Linked DNA regions of Homo sapiens: region 1 is linked to region 2. Evidence: fine-mapped expression QTL. Tissue or cell type: putamen. Region 2 holds a variant in brackets; the other region holds the start of a gene. All regions are shown on one strand. Distances are between the middles of the regions.

What was found. PIP is the estimated chance that this variant, and not a neighbour inherited with it, causes the effect.
Region 1: LMO1 starts here. The variant in region 2 is fine-mapped to the expression of LMO1 in putamen (GTEx, PIP 0.92).

What each region holds. Positions count from the first base shown.
Region 1 is chr11:8,260,747-8,268,852 of GRCh38, forward strand. LMO1 (LIM domain only 1) reads right to left here and starts at 3,132. Exons shown (of 4, transcript NM_002315.3): 1 at 2,592-3,132. The coding sequence starts at 2,616. RefSeq lists enhancers at 1-87, 1,018-1,557, 6,697-7,281, 7,282-7,865 and a silencer at 2,254-2,343.
Region 2 is chr11:8,426,226-8,434,331 of GRCh38, forward strand. The region is part of intron 14 of STK33 (serine/threonine kinase 33); the gene reads right to left. Among named protein-coding and RNA genes, the nearest start is that of STK33, 160 kb to the right of the region's middle. The variant T/C (reference allele first, on the strand shown) is at 3,246.

The DNA of each region.
Region 1 (8,106 bases), 170 kb before region 2:
CAGAGGAGCCCCAGCCTCTCCAGACAAGATGCTGTCAGGTGGAGAAAAGGCGTTGGGGGTGGTTAATAGCAGCCCTGAGTCCCTGCTGCAGCCAGACAAAAGGTGCCGTATGCAGGGAACGCACCCTTTGGGGGAGCCGGGGGGTGGGGGAATGCTGCCACCCAGTTCAGATAGCCACCTGCTGAGAGGGCAGAAGCGTTCAAGAAGAAGATAGGTGGTTGGTTTGGAGGAGCAGATGAGTGCATCCAGAACCTTTCTCCCTCCCCCAATTGAAGATGCCATCTTCAAGGTTTCCTGGAACTATGGGAGGCCAGACTCCTCTTAATAGGGAGTGGAGTGCAGATGCATGAGCAGAAACGTCGCTTTTGAAAGACAGCTATGGGCTGGGTAGGACAAGAATAGGTGGCTGCTTAGGACACCAGTGGATGTGCTTGTGCTGTAATGGACCCCAGAGCCCAGCAGCTCCATGGTAGTGGGCACCATATTGTTTAGGCTGGACAGGCTGGGGATGGAGGGGCATCTGGAGCTCTCTTCCACAGATCTAGCAGAAACCAGAAGAAACATCTGCCCAGGGTGCTTGAGGTACACTGCAATTTGGAGGCAGGGAGCTGGCTAAAATGACCTCCAGAAATCCATTCTCACTCAAGGCTCATCTGAAACCCTTTGTATTATCTCAGAGCCAGAGGCATCATGTGGTGCCTGGGCAGAGCAAGATCCTGGGTGCAGGTAGGGGGTGTCATCTTGTTGGCATGAGACCAATCTCCCTGGCCTGAGGCCTCTCACGTACAGAGCCCGAGTCTTCTGGATTCCTGGCTTGGGCCTGGGGAGCCAAGTATGCCAAATAACCTCTGCTAAAGATGAACCTTGCATGCTCCCCATAGTGACAGTATCTCCAGGTACCAAGGAAGTACCCTCTCCCCTGGCTTCTCCAAGCCCTTCATTTTTACCAAGAGGGAAGGTGAACATGGGGAGTTCGTGATGAAAGGCACCAAATCAAGGTCTCTTCCCTCCCTGTCTGGCCCAACCCCAGACCCCTTCTTCTCCTTTTCATTCTATATGAAGTTCTCCGATGGCCTACATGGGGCTCCAGGGAAGGGGTCCGTGAATAGAGAAGACATATTGAAGATGATGTCCCACCCCAGCTAGCCCAGAAGCACTGAGGTTCCCCCCATCCTCTCTCTTCCTACACACATACTGAGAGCCACAGGTCCTCCTAGATGCCACCCCCAGGCCAGATACTTCAAATTCCCCCTCCCTGCTGGATGTCTCAGAAGGCGGTAGCAGCCTGGGGGCATCGGCACCTGGCAGCGGCAATGCGAACATCCTGTGTGACCCTGAGCAAGTCACTTAGCTTTGCATTTTCACCAACTGGCCACATCAATAACAACGCTGCCCCAGGGACAGAGGGCTCAGGCCCAGCAGAGACTCCTGAACGGAAGGGCAGAGGATGGCCACTACAGTCACTTTAAGAGGATTCCCGCTGACTCAAAGCAAACCTACCCTTTCGGTACCTCACCAATGGCAGAACGCCGGCGGCAGCGTGGGCACCAACAGTCACATACAAATGCCCCTGCAACACCAACACACAGGCCTCACCTACAGGGCAGGAGGTCCTGGGACAGCCAAGGTACTGCCTCTCTCCTTACCCTGGGGACTCATCTTAGGGCACCCACTTGGCTTTCCCCCCAAGGGGGCTGGGATCCCCAGCCTTCTAGGACACTTAACTGCAGGGCACTCCCTGCCAGTAAGGCTTTGGGGTCTATGGGACCACCTGCTAGTGGCTTCCAGCAGCCATGGGCTCCTCTGTTCCGACCTTTCCCGTGCCCTGCAGTTTTCTAGGGCGCACTGAGGCTCGACCACGGAAGGTCCGTGCCACTCTCGCAGGCCGCTCCCGCACAAGTGCTACCGGCCGGCGGCGGGACACTTTCTTCCTCTGGGCCAAACTCCCGCCTCCGCGCTCAGAGAGACAGGGAGCTAGCGGGCCGGCACAAGAGGCGGCTCTCTTTCTCACCGAGTCACGCTCATGCAGATGTCCCCCGGAGGGTCCAACCCGCCTTCCCCTCGCCTGCCGGGCACCCTGGCGCTCGCGCCGTCCTCCCGCGCTCCCGCTTGCCCCGAGCTCTGGAGCCCGATTCTCCCCGAAGCCGCTGATTTGCTCGGCGCTCAGCGCCTCTCGGGTTACGCGGCGGCTGGCGCGAGGGTGATGGCTGCGGTGAGAGCAGCAGCCTCAGACACGAAATGCTCAGAGCGAACCTCCGCGGCGCGGAGATCGCAAGGGAGCCCCAGCCTCCGCGCGGCCCCGCGGCGCAGCACACGGCCAGTGCACAGCTCCTCGGCTCGCGGCCGGGACCCGGGGGGCGTGCGGCCCCGGGCGCGTGCAGCCCGGGGCTCGACCTCCTCCCCCCGCAAGTTCCGCCCGGCTGTCCCCCGGTACTTCCCCCCGCCCCAGCCCCGGCCCCCAGCGCGCCGCCCGCCCCGCAATCCCCGCACAGCCCAGCAGGTGTGCGCCCGTGTCCCCGCGTGTGTGTGCCTGCGCGCCGCGGCAGGGGGCGAGGGGGTGAGGGGCGTCGAGACCCCGGCCCGCCACCTACCGTCCTCCTTGTCCAGCACCATCATCTCGGGCGCTCCGTGTCCAGCCGCAGCTAGGCTCGGCCGGGAGAAGGGCGCCGACTCGGGGCGCGCTTTGGAGGGGCGGCCGGTCTTCGGGCAGCTAGCGGGCTCTAATTACCCGCTTGTCCGGCTCTTAACCTAGATTGCACTCAGCTAGAATTACATTCAGGAGTGAAGCACTTCGCAGATACAAAAGCAGTCTCACCTACTTTTGTGCCTCAGAATTGGAAGGAACTACGAACTGCAATTTAGAGAGAGAGGGAGAGGGAGAGAGAAGGGGGAAAAGAGGATCAGAGCCGTTTCTTTGATTCTCACCTTCTAAATGGCTCAATTTGCCCAGTATAATCTGTCTTAATGTAATTGCATTTGATAGCTCATAACCCTGTCTCTGGCAACGACACAGCTTTCAGCCTCATAAAGTGTTTTCCCCTCGGATTTAATCTGAATCTCAATCTAAAATTATATTCAAAGAGATGGGGGAATCTCGTGGCCGTCTCCCGCTGCCTTTCTCCCTCAATGTATGAGGTTTGCACTCCTGCTACTGCATAAATGCACACATTTCCTGAGGCCTCCACCCTCCCGGGTTAATGGGGAGTGGAGACGCACGGCTGTCCGGCTCCGCAGCGCCACCTGGAGGCTTCTAGGTCCTAGCTCGGTGAGCGTCTTTGCTCCGATCCCAGGGTCGTGGTCTTCAATGATTGTCTGGAGGACGCATCCCATCTGTCACTCCCAGACCCTCAGCCTTGATTTTTGTCTCTTCTTCAGAGCAATATTTCTCTGATCACATCCTTTTCCTTCCTACCAGTTCTGCCCGGGGTTTCGTGTTGCTTCCCGGATTGTTTGGCAAAGTTAACCCTCTTCAGGGCACAAACGATCCTACCGAGTCTTACAGCACTACTCCTGACCCCAGCAGCACCCCCAAAAGCATCCTGACTCCATGGAGCGGGAGAGCTTATCTCAACTTCTCTCGAAGCAAGCACAGGCATGGCCTTGAAAGCTTTTCTCATTCTACAAATATTTACTGAGCATGTATTATGTGCCAAGCACAGTTCTAAGGCACTAGGGATACAGCACTGAACAAAACAAAGATTCCTGCTGCTATTATGGAGTTGACGATTCTTGCTCTGTAACTCATAAGGCAGGAAAAGAGACAGTGCCCATCTCTTCTCCTGGACCCTGCTTCTCCCCAGAATCCTGGGGCTGATGTTCTGGCTGCCTACCCTAGGAAGGCCACCTACCCACCTACTTTTTTTCTTTTCATTCCTTTTTCTTTCTTTCTGTTTTTTCTTTTTTAAGATGGAGTCTTGCTCTGTTGCCCAGGCTGGAGTGCAGTGGTGTGATCTCGGCTCACTGCAAGCTCCGGCTCCCAGGTTCCAGCGAATCTTCTGCCTCAGCCTTCCGAGTAGCTGGGATTACAGGCACACACCACCACGCCCAGCTAATTTTTGTATTTTTTAGTAGAGACGGGGTTTTACCATATTGGCCAGGCTGGTCTCGAACTCCTGACCTCGTGATCCACCCACCTCAGCCTCCCACAGTGATGGGATTACAGGCGTGAGCTGCTGCGCCTGGCCGGAAGGCCACCTACTTTTAAATCCCAAGTCTTTTTTCTTTGCCTAGACAGTACAGAGTTCCAAGGTGGGATAGAAATAATGATTTTTCTTCAGCCCAAGGAGGGCTCCAGACAGATGTGTTGGAGGCTTGGTCCTGGCAATCACTTCTGAGGACTAGACCCAGGGAAAGAGAAACGGGCTGAAGGGCCACCAGTTGGGATTCTATCTCATCTCTGCCAATTACCAACAGTGGACCTTAGCAAGTCTCTTTCTCTATCTGGGCCTCAGTTTCCTTGGCTGTGAGGTGGGAGACCTACTCTTCCTGTATCTATGGTTGCTGTGGGGGTCAGATGAGCTAATGCATGTTAATGTGCTTTGTAAACTGTGGCACTCCAGACAATGCAGGGGGATGGGGGGAGATTATCTGGTTTGAAGGAGACCTGGAGGCTAGGTCTTACCCTTTAAGCCCTGGGAGGCCCCAGTGCTTGACAGGGATGGGGAGCAGCGGGCTGCAGCCATATTCCTCTCTGCTAGGCAGGGAAGTCAGGCTTTGAGAAAACAGAAAAGCGCTGCTTCTAATGAGATGCCTCATCTGCAGCTCAGAGGGTTTCACTTTCCCCTTCATCTTGAATACTTAATCCTAATAGTCCTTGAGTATATTTGATGTTAAATATATCATTTTGCTCAGACTCACCAGCCTCAGGACTGCGAGCTTGATCTCTCCCCTGCCACTGCCGCCAGACCCATGCCCTCAGGGTCTGAGGGAGGCTTTGGCACCGCTGCCACCGGCATATTTGGTGCCAGCCCCTCACACCCACCAGAGCTGGGGGCTAGACAGTGTAGCAAGCACAGGGCCTGACAGGCTGGCAAGGGGCAACTTCTTGCCGTAGAAACCTCTGTGCTACTGGAGGCGTTCACTCCATCGGGGCTGCATGCAGCCTTACTACTGACCTCCAGGGGCAGATTCTCCTCACTTTCAGGGGCTGGCCCTGACCCACAAACCAGGACTGGGCTAGCTGTGGCCACTCTTCCACTCTCTTGTCCACGAGTTTGTCTGAATACCAGCTCACCTCAGCCTCCAAGGTACCTAATTGGCAGCCACATGACTGGCATCCCTTTGGGGAGTCAGGGCCCTGTGCCCCAAACCCAGGGACTGGAGCAGGCCTGGGGTGCTGAGCAATGGGCTGCAGAAGCAGGTAGGGCATGCCAGCAGGGGACTGGTGCTGTGTGTGCCCACAGGTGGCTCTTTCTGCACCCCCAGCTGTGAGCATGGTGCTCCCAAACTGATCTGGAGAGGAACCTTCACAGCAAGTCTTGGAGGGTTTGGGTGGCTTGAGCTTCCAGCCAGGAAGGGGCTTGCTGGGTTGACAGAGGCAGATAGAAACATCACTCACCCCATCTGATGGCCTCTCTCCACTCACTGGGCAAGCAAGTAACTCCCACCCCCATACTCGCCCCACCCCCATGCTCACCCCACCCAAGCTGCTTCTAGGTCCAGGGACACGCCCACAGCACCAGAGTGGAATCCTCAGATCCCCTGGGGCTGGGGGAGGTAGTTTTCCCCCAACACATTCCACAGGTGATGAGCATGTACTCTCACTTCGACAAGCCAAGAGTGCTCCAAAATGCCCTCGAAATGCCTCTGGGAATGGCAGGGAGAGGACAACTATCAATCCCCAAGGTTAGTTTAAGGAGAAAGTGGGTGCTACTGGCTGTCTTACAAATATCTGGGCAGGTCCCAGCAATTTGCCCCTCCACCTGGCAGGAAAGTCCCGAGGAAGAGTTCCTGCATTAGGAGTGGGGGTGGGAGATAGTGGGACCCAGGGCCTGAGGGCCCAGGCCGACTAGATATTACAGAAGTCTTTGGTGGAGACTGTCAGATGTGCCTCAGCCAGAGGGCCTGCTCCCAACACAATGCAGCTGCCTCCAAGACGGAGTTACAAGCTAGCCACACAGGTGATGCTCAGAGAGGTATTGGGGTGACGAGGACCCCTTCTCTGTGGCCACCACAGTTGACAGGACAGAGTAAACCTACAGACTTCGCAGTGCAATCAGGATGCCTGCTGGCCATGTTCAGATGCCCTTCCCTTCCCCCTGCTTACACAAAAGCAGCCAATGCACAGGAATTTGCAACCCGCTGGAGTGAAGAAGTGCACAGTCGGCAAACTTTTCCTCTTTTGGTTTCTGGAGAGCCTGGACAGGCCTTCTTGCAAGCAGCAGTTATAGATTGTTAGGCCTTGTGGAGGCCTAAGCCAAATCTGCACCATAGCAAAGAAATCTCCCCTACCCCTGCACCACAGCCCTGAGAAGGTTTTGGGTGTGCACTGACCAACTGTCCAAGTTTGCCTTGTGACTCAAGGGTTTCCTAGGATACAGGATGTTCAGTACTAAAATTGAGATCGTCCTGAGCAAACAAGGACAATTGATCACTATAGTGAGTGGTGGTAGGATGGGTCAAGGGACTAGCTGGGCCAGAGAGGAAGGCCAGGCAGCCAGACCCTTTCCCTGCAGCCCAGAAGTTGCCTCTCAACCCCAAACCTTCCAGCCTCCTGCCCCAGCACTTCGTCCTTCAGGCACTAAGGGATTGTCCCAGCCTCGGCGGATGGTCTCTGGGTCAGCCAGAGCTGTGAGTTCTTCCAAGAGACTGGCAGTGGAAAGGGTAGGAGTTGGACCCAGGGATGGATGGAAATTTTGTGAGGTCCAAAGCTTACTGTAGTTTGGGCGTGGGGCTCTTTAAGAAAAGGACTACAAGACTACTAATACCAAATTACCACCAAGGACCTGGCAGCTGAAGGAACCTGAAGGACCCTAAACTTCATTAGCTTCAAGGTAAAACCGCCTCTAGTTGAACCTGATATTTTGGACTAGATGGCCCACCCACCTACCCCAGCCAGCGTGGCACCTCCCAACATGCCAGGCTGGGTGAACTGATGGCAGTTCCCTCCCTAGCCCTGCCAGGGGCGGAGACAATTGTCAGCCATCCCGCAGCTACGGAGTGCCAGACCGCAGAGACAGTGCTGGTTTGACGGCACCCTCACCCCTGCACCTGCAGGATCTGTGGGCACCCCCACCACCCCGCTGGGATCCGTTCCGCAGTAGGGTGCGGAAGGGGAACGTGCAGACACCCAGAGAGGCTGGGAGACTGGCTGGCAGTGGGCACTGCCGGGAAGCCCGCGGTGCGGGTCGCAGAGGCGCTCCGGATGCCCGCAAGGCGGCAAGAGTCCGTGAGAAAGTTCCCAGCCGGAGCGCGCAGGGCTGGCGGCCTCGTTGGGACCGGGAGACTTCCTAATCCCGCCGCCGCCGAAGCCCGGGCGCTGAGCCTGGCACCGCCGACCCCGGCACCGGCGCACACATCAGCCGCCGCGCTTCCGGGAAGCCACCCATCAGCCGGAGGAGGCCCGCGGGTGCTGAGGGCTCTGCCGCCGCTAGCGGGGTGGACTCCGCAGGGCCAGCGCCGCAGTCTCCGCCCCACGTCCCGCGTGCCCCCGGGCACCGGCACCGGGCGCCGGGCACCTACCGTCCTCCTGGTCCAACACCATGGTCCCGACGGCTCCAGCCGGACTAGCGCCGAGGATACGGAGGGGCGCGTGGCTCCGACTCCCGCCGCCGGCCGCCTGCGCTGCTCCCGCCGGCCCCGCGCGGGCGCCGAGTCCGGAGAGCCGCGACCGCCGACGGGGGCAGACGGACCGGAGTCCGGAGCGCAGCCCCGCGGGCAGGGAGCGCAGGAGGAGGGACTGGGGGGAAGGCGCGGGGGCGAGACGGCCAGGCCGGGATCGCGGGAGCCTCGCGAGCAGCAGCTGCCCGGGCCGGGCCGCAGCCGGAGCCTGAGCCGCGCGCGCGTCCTTCCTCCGCGCCGGCCGTACTCGCCTCAGCAGAGTGAAGGCTGCATTTCCCAGGGCCCCTCAGATTCCCCTGTTAATTAAATCAATTCATTATGCTCAGA
Region 2 (8,106 bases):
GTCAGGCAGCTCAGCAGCCTGGGCTCTCCTCCAACTGCCCCAGCCAAACTCCGTATTGTTCTGCCGGTGGATGGCTTGCAGGCCTGCTGGCCCTATGCCGCGGAGTGACTCTCAATGTCCAGCTGCTTGTGCGTCTGCCTGCTAGGGTCTCGGGTTTTTTACAGGCCCAGGATGGGGGCATGTCAGGCAGGGGTGGTCTTGGAAAATGCAACATTTAGGCAGGAAAACAGAAATGCCTGTCCTCACCTAGGTCTGTGGGCACATGCCTGGGGGTGGAGCCCTAGCCAGGGACTATGCCCTCCTCTACCTACCTTGGCCTCCCAAAGTGCTGGGATTATAGGCGTGAGCCACCATGCCCAGCCTGTTTTCTCTATTTCTGTCTTAATTTTTCCAAAGATGTATTTATTTTGTGTTTTTTTCAAAGAACCAAATACTGACCTTGTCGATCTTTTCTATTTTACCTTTGAGTTCTATTTAGTTGATTTTCACTCTTAGTTTTATCTTTCCTACTACTTTATTTGGGTTTACTCTGTTAAAATTCTGGAATGTTAAGTTAGATATCATTAATTTTCAGTCTCTGCCCCCTTCCATATCATTGTTATTTCAGTTTCTCCCACTCTTTATATGTTTTTCATTCCTTCCTACTTTAAAAATCTGATGCCTCCATATTCTCCTTTAGCACACTTTCATGTGCTGCTCCCATGCCCTTGCCCCCTTCCCAGTGCTCCTCATGTGGATATTATCATGAATTTTAATTCTGGGTTATCATGATTATGTTTTCTCTTCTTTGGTTTTGTGTTTTGTTTTTGTATTTTTTGATATCAGCGAACTCTACCAAGACATTTAAAGACTCTTGCTGCACATGGCTCTTGTGGCATCTCCTGGATTTGTTTTTCCTCCTCTGTAAGTACTTCTACCATGTGTTTTAACTCCTGTGGCAAACCCTCTGAGCTCTTGTATATTTGAAAATATCTTAATCATTCCCTTTAATATGAATAACAATTTGAATAGATATAACATTTTAACTTTAAAGTTCTTTTTCCCTTAATACAGTTAACATATTACTCCAGTTATTCTTGCATCCAATGTTGCTGCTGAAAAGTAGGATGTCAATGTGATTCTTGTTCTTTTTTATATGATCTGCTCATTCTCTCTGGGAGCTTTTAGAATTTTTCTTATTGATGTTTTAAAATTTCATTACGTCTATTTGTCAGTTTTTTTCTTCTCTCTTATTGGGTAGTCTATCATCTCTTTAAAGCTAAGGTCTTTCTTTAATTCTGATGAATTTATCCCCATTATTTCTTAAACGATTTCCTCCTCCCCCTTTTTATTTTTGTAATCTGAGACTCCTATTAGATGGATTTTGGCACTTTTACTTTTAACCCCATATATCTTTTCTTTTATATTTTCAACTTATTTATCCTCTCCTGCTCCCTTCTGTATAAAGTTCTACAATCTGATCATCTAGTTTTAAAATTCATTCTTTAGTTGTATCTACTATGTATCCTATATCACTGCATTCTATATTTCAACTATTATATTTTTCATACCTACTTGGTTCTGTTTTTATTTCTTATTCTTGCTTCATATTATCAACATCTTCCCTTATCTCTCTTAGTATGTTCACTTTGTTAATTTTTAAATTCTAGGACTGTGTATTCTAAACTCTCTTCTAATGGTGTTTGAAACTTGGCCCCTAAGCTCCTGTTTCCCAGGAAGCATTGGCACCCCAGAAGACAAGGCATGGATCTAGAGCCAGTCCTGGCCCTTGGCCTTGGGAGATCAAGGAAGAGTATGGGGAAGAACCTTAGACACCAAAAACCTGCCCCACTAAGCAACTCCTCAGTTCAGGGTTTCACACTTACCCACCTCCTCCCGCCAGGAGAAATAATCTGAGGAGGAGGTACTCCTAAAGTACACCAAAAGTATCAGCCAGGAGTCCTAGAGTTTGGAGGCCAAGAGGTAAGAAGTCAATGCCTACAACGAGTTAATTCCCACACATTTTCCTTGGCTTCTCATTCAGGCACGGCTTCAGTGCTGCTCCGACTTTATTACTTCAGACCCTTGTGAAGGGATATGTAAGCACTGGTGTCCCAAAGCAAATGACAAGAGGAAAAAGGAAAAACCGGGTTGTTTTGTGTTTCTATTTTAATTCCCTGCCTTGGCTGCAGCCTCACCCACTATCCATACCAGCTCAAGCTATCCCTTTATTTTCCCAGGGATTTCTCACTCTTCTCTGAATCCTGGTATCATGAGGTTTCTCTCTAAAGTTACTTTAGGTTTAATCTTCAGAGAAGACACAGTATCTTGGCAGGAACCAGAGTCTCCTCCAGCAGGCCCTTCACTGAGTGGTCTTGAAACGTAACTCAAACAGCTGTGATGAACTGCATGACACTACTATGTCAAAACTCCTTCCGTTCCTATCCACTTATTTATATAAGGTTCTCAGTGTCTATTAAAACTAAAAACAATACAACATTGCTGAATATTGTCTCATTCTAACAATAGAAATATTCAATCGTGTATGAATGAATTAATTGGGAGGGAAAGCAGCCCTATCCATCCACTAAAGCATTTCCAATATGATACTGTTATGTTTAGTAATTCTAAAAAATTATAATCATGTTCTCTTGATCAATTATATACTACTGATAATAATCATAATGAAAAGTCATTCTTAAATAATTTTTAGAAATTATAGAGCCTTAGAGTCCCAGGAAATAAAAAAAAATTTAAATATAAATTTGAACTTTTTTTGTAAAATGAGACAAATTATAGGTGATTAATAAAATCCATTCAAGCAAAAATATTACATTAGGATAAAATTCTGTGGAAGAAGTAGAATAGAAAAATAGAGACACAAATTCAAAGAGAAGAATGAATAACCTAGTTTCTGTTAAAGAAGAACTTGTTCATAAATATCTAAAAGTGAATGAGATGGATGTCCCATATGGGTAAAAAACTGATATTAGCTTTATTTTTAATTACAAATGTTTATATGATAAATTATACCCCTTGCAATTAATTACATTTATGGTGAAAATTTTTAAAGTTCAACCTAAAAATATCTGAGAAGACTCGTCATTTTTCAAAATTCTTTTTTGTTATCATTCAAGCATAAAAGTTTGAACAGATTGTTCCAAAAACACTTCATTCTTGTTCCAATCTACAAAACCAGCACTTCTAGACTTTAATTTTGTCTCACACCATTTTCCTAGTCACCTAAGAAGCAGTTTTGATTGCTC[T/C]TACTCTCTTACCTCACACTTCTACTTAGTTACAAAATTATGTTTTCTTTCTCAGGTCTTCTTTCTCCCCTCTTCTCTGTTCCCACTCACTGCCCTAGTTTCAGTCTTCGTTATCTTACCCCAGTCCTACTTCAGTTCTCCGGTTTCTGCTTGCCACCACGACAACCATATCACACACTGTTGCCAGATAACTCTTACTGAAGTTCCGTCTGTCCTGGCAAACAATGCATCCACCAACTCACTAACTGATAGAGTCTCAAACACTTGGCTACTTGTTCCCAGCCTGTTCCAATACTCATCTTGTTTCTATTTAACTCCTGACTCTTGGTTCACCTCCTCGTTAAGACCCTGCTTCCACCCTTTAGCCACCACCTGCTCCCTCAAGACCTTCAACTCCAATTTATTCCTAGGGCTCTTCCTAGATTCAACTGAGATTCAGACTATCTCAGGCAAGATACTACATTCGAGTTCTTCCCTCAGAATCTAGTCACTATCTCTAGCCCACAGACCTCATCCAAGTCCACTCACATAACGCTCCAAGGGTGAGAGGGACAAAAGAGAAAACTCACACAAGCACAGCAGCAATCATGGCACTTGAGTGCCTTTCAGTAGTAAGTCATTGCCAAATGAATCAAATGTAAACTCTTAGGGTCTAGAACAAAATAGCTCTAACCTTCCTTTTCAACATAATTTCCCACTACTCTCCTGTATGCCTTCTATGGTTATAGAAAAAAAGGAACTACAAATTATTCTCTGAATATACTTCATATTTTTTCTATCTTTATGCCTTTGAAAAGTTATTTCTATCTAGAATTCTCTTACCTTCCTTACCCCGACTCCTACATGAATTTCTATTTTTACCCACTTTTTAAAAAGCCAGATCACATATTACCTCCACCCTTAAGTAATTTTTATAATCCCCTAAAGCAGGGGTTTCCAATCTTTTCGCTTCCCTGGGCCACACTGGAAGAAGAATTGTCTTAGGCCACACATAAAATACACTAACACTAATGACAGCTGAAGAGCAAAAAAAAAGAAAAATAATAATAATAAATCTCATAAAGTTTTAAGAAAGTTTACAAGTTTGTGCTGGGCTGTGGGTTGGATAAGCTTGCTTAAAAGAATAATAGCTCTCTTCTTGGAAATTTAGTAGTAGTTGTTGTAGTACATTTACATCCTTGTTGATCTATCATTCTCTACCCGTGTTTTTGTTTTAAACCCTCTACTAGGCTGTGGGCAACCTGTGGGCAGGGACCATGCCAGACTGATCCTTGTGTCCTCCAAAGCACATAGTAGCTATCCAATAAATATTTGTTGAATTATTGAGTATATACCAATAATTGAATACTGAGTAAATCCCCAAGTGTCCTGGCTCATGAGCTTTTCCTTAACATAATTTTTTTTTTTTTTTTTTGAGATGGAGTCTTGCTCTGTCACCCAGGTTGGAGTGCAGTGGTGCGATCTTGGCTCACTGCAACCTCCACCTCCTGGGTTCAAGCAATTCTCCTGCCTCAGCCTCCCAAGTAGCTGGGACTACCAGCACCCGCCACCACGCCTGGCTAATTTTTGTATTTTTAGTAGAGATGGGGTTTCACCATATTGGCCAGGCTGATCGCAAACTCCTGACCTTGTGATCCGCCTGCCTCGGCCTCCCAAAGTGCTGGGATTACAAGCGTGACCCACCGCACCCGGCCTCCTTAACATAATTTTTATAGAAGGCTTCATTAGAGACTCAAAAATATATTCATATACATAAGATAATTCAGAATGTATGAATAACTACATATAGTAAAATAAAGGTAAGAGTTAACATATTTAGGATGAAAATATACAGAAGGAGAAAATAACAGCCAACAGTTAGGTATCAGAAAATTTCCATCCTCTTATATAGAGTATATATGTTAAAGCTAAAGGTCAAAAGCCAATGATCAAAACCCGAATAACAATACATAAATTAATGAACAAAGGCCCTGTTCATACATTAGGAAAGACCGTTCTGAAATTAGTCCCTACACCTTGATTACAAAGTGCTTTTGCAAGGTTGTGACTATAAAGCAAAGTACAGACTTACTTGTGGTAAATTAATTACTCAAGGAGAGGAACCGTTTTATTCATCTTTGTACCCCTCTAGTACCTGATGGATTAAATAAAATGATACTTGCAACAATCAATATAGACATTTGAGTGATTGATGTCCTATTTAAAATAAGCCACCTGGCAAGACTGATGCACTTTAACAATATTAATAATTTCTTTAAGAGCATACAACTCTTCTTTACTACCTATGGAATGAAGTTAAAATTGTAACCCTGGTTCAAGTCCACTCACGATTTTCTTTTTTTTCTTAGTCTCACAATTTTCTTTCCTTTTCTGGTCTCATTTCTCACTTCTTTCCTTCAAGCTTCTTATCTGCCAGTCAAATTAAACTTTCTGACTTCATACTTGCTTGCCTCCATACCTCTGGTCATTTTGTAATTTCTTAAGTCATTTATCATTTTCTTCCTTGCGTTAAATCTTATACATAGGTTGTTTTCCTTACTAAATTGTAAGTTCCTTATGTCAGAGACCACGTCTTACGTGGCTTTAACTATATTTTATACCTAGCACCTAGTACCTGGTAGGGGCACACGTGCGTGTACACACAATGTGTTGAAGGAATTAATGTTTGAATATCATTAAAGCTCAAACTACATTATGGCAAGACATAAAAGAAAAACTGACTTCCTTAATTTATAGCAGTGGCTTTTAAATATAAGTGGGCAGAAGAAATACCTGGGGAACTTGTTAAAAATGTAAATTCTTGGTGTTATTTGTCACCAGGAGACTTGAAGGAATACCAAGGCAATTATCTAATAAGAAGCAATTAACTCCTGAACCACAGTTGACAGTAAAAGGAAACAAGGAAGAAATGAATGAAAGAAAAGAACCGGCATACTCCGGCCATTAGAGTCAAACTCTTCCTTTGCAAGAAAGTCATTTATTGGGTATTTTTCCTTCCATCTAACCACTGACTTTTTAAATCAGGATGACAATATGTATGTGTTTATTTGAAATTCCATTCCCTTAAATGTACAAGAGAAATAGTTATTTTTCTTAGAATACTTTTCAGATATTTACCACATTTCAAAATGCACAGTACATAGGCTAAACCATAGAAACTTTATAGAAAAATGTTACTATGTGTTAGGTATTACAAAAGGTAAGCTCTGGTTGTAAAGCAGCAGGGCGCTGAGAGAACTACATATTTTCTTTAGATTACTTCAAACAGGGGATATGAATCATAGAAAGTAAGACTTCAAGTGGTTAAGAAGAGTTTTGCCTTTCAGAAGTTTGTAAAATGCCAGTATTCTAAATTTCATCCACTGAATTCCTTAGGACAATCCAATATAGTATACAATATCTGTCACTTCTCTATCCATTTGGCAAAGACTTCATAGAGACAAATGTTACAGAGGCTCAAAAATGGAGACTACTAGAAAAATGACCAAAGCCAGAAATAAAGTATGTGCTAATTAGAAAACAAATAATTAAATGGCCCAACCCGAATGTTGTGTGATGCTGAAAAGAGATAAATTTCTAAGGCACACCATCTGTTTTACAGTTTATTTTGCTGTACTACAAACCTACTCAATATAGTTCTGCAGTGATCTAGCTGCTAACTCATTTGCACAATTACTTTAGGCCAGAAATAACTGTTGCACAGAATCCTTTGAGAGAGCAACACATTCATGGAAGAGGGCAAACATAATTCATTCTTGGGTGAAGACTATTTTTAGCCCTTAAAGAAAAAAAAAGTTATTCAAAGAAATGATTAGAAATTGCCAAAGGAAAATTAGATAATTTAAAAGGAGAGTGATATCACTATATATTTATGTATCTAAATTTATCTGAGGTTCTTAATGTTTTAGTGCCTAAAGACATGTTGCTGGGACCTCTTCTCTCTATCTGTATTTTCTTCCTTATTTATCTTTTCAGCCCAGTGGCTTTAAGTGGTGTTTGTATACTCATGATTCTCAAATTTATATCTTCATCTTAAATCTTTCCAGTTTCAAACTCATATATTCAATTATCTGTTTGATATCACCACTTGGATGCCACATAAGCATTGCAAACTGATCCTATCTAATATAGAACCTTTGATTCACCATCCGTGTCCCAGAAATAAATCTATTTCTCCTACAGTCTTCCATATCTCAGTAAATGGCACCAACATCCAACCAGTTGTTAGAATAAAATCTAGATGTCACCCTTATTTCCTCTCTTAGCCTCATTCTTCATCGAATCCGTCATCAACTCCTATCAATTATACCTCTAAAATATATCTCAGGTTTTTCTCTTCATCGCTATTGCTACCACCCTATCCAAGTCACTATTATCTCTCAACAGTACTACTTCAACATCTATCTAATTCCCTATTTCCAAGCCACTCCCCCCCACCCCAATAGTCAGAGTGATCTTTTAAGAATATTATCGGCCGGGCATGGTGGCTCACACCTGTAATCCCAGCACTTTGGGAGGCCGAGCCGGGCAGATGATGAGGCCAAGAGATCGAGACCATCCTGGCCAATATGGTGAAATTCTGTGTCTACTAAAAATACAAAAAATTGCTGGGCATGGTGGTGCATGCCTTTAGTCCCTCAGGAGGCTGAGGCAGGAGAATCACTTGAACCCAGGAGGCAGAGGTTGCAGTTGACTTGAACCCAGGAGGCAGAGGTTGCAGTGAGCCGAGATTGTGTCACTGCACTCCAGCCTGGTGACAGAGCGAGACTCCGTCTCAAAAAAAAAAAAAAAAAAAAGAATATTATCATATGCTAATTTATATTTTAAATGTAATTATATCATGTATCCCCAATACCTAACA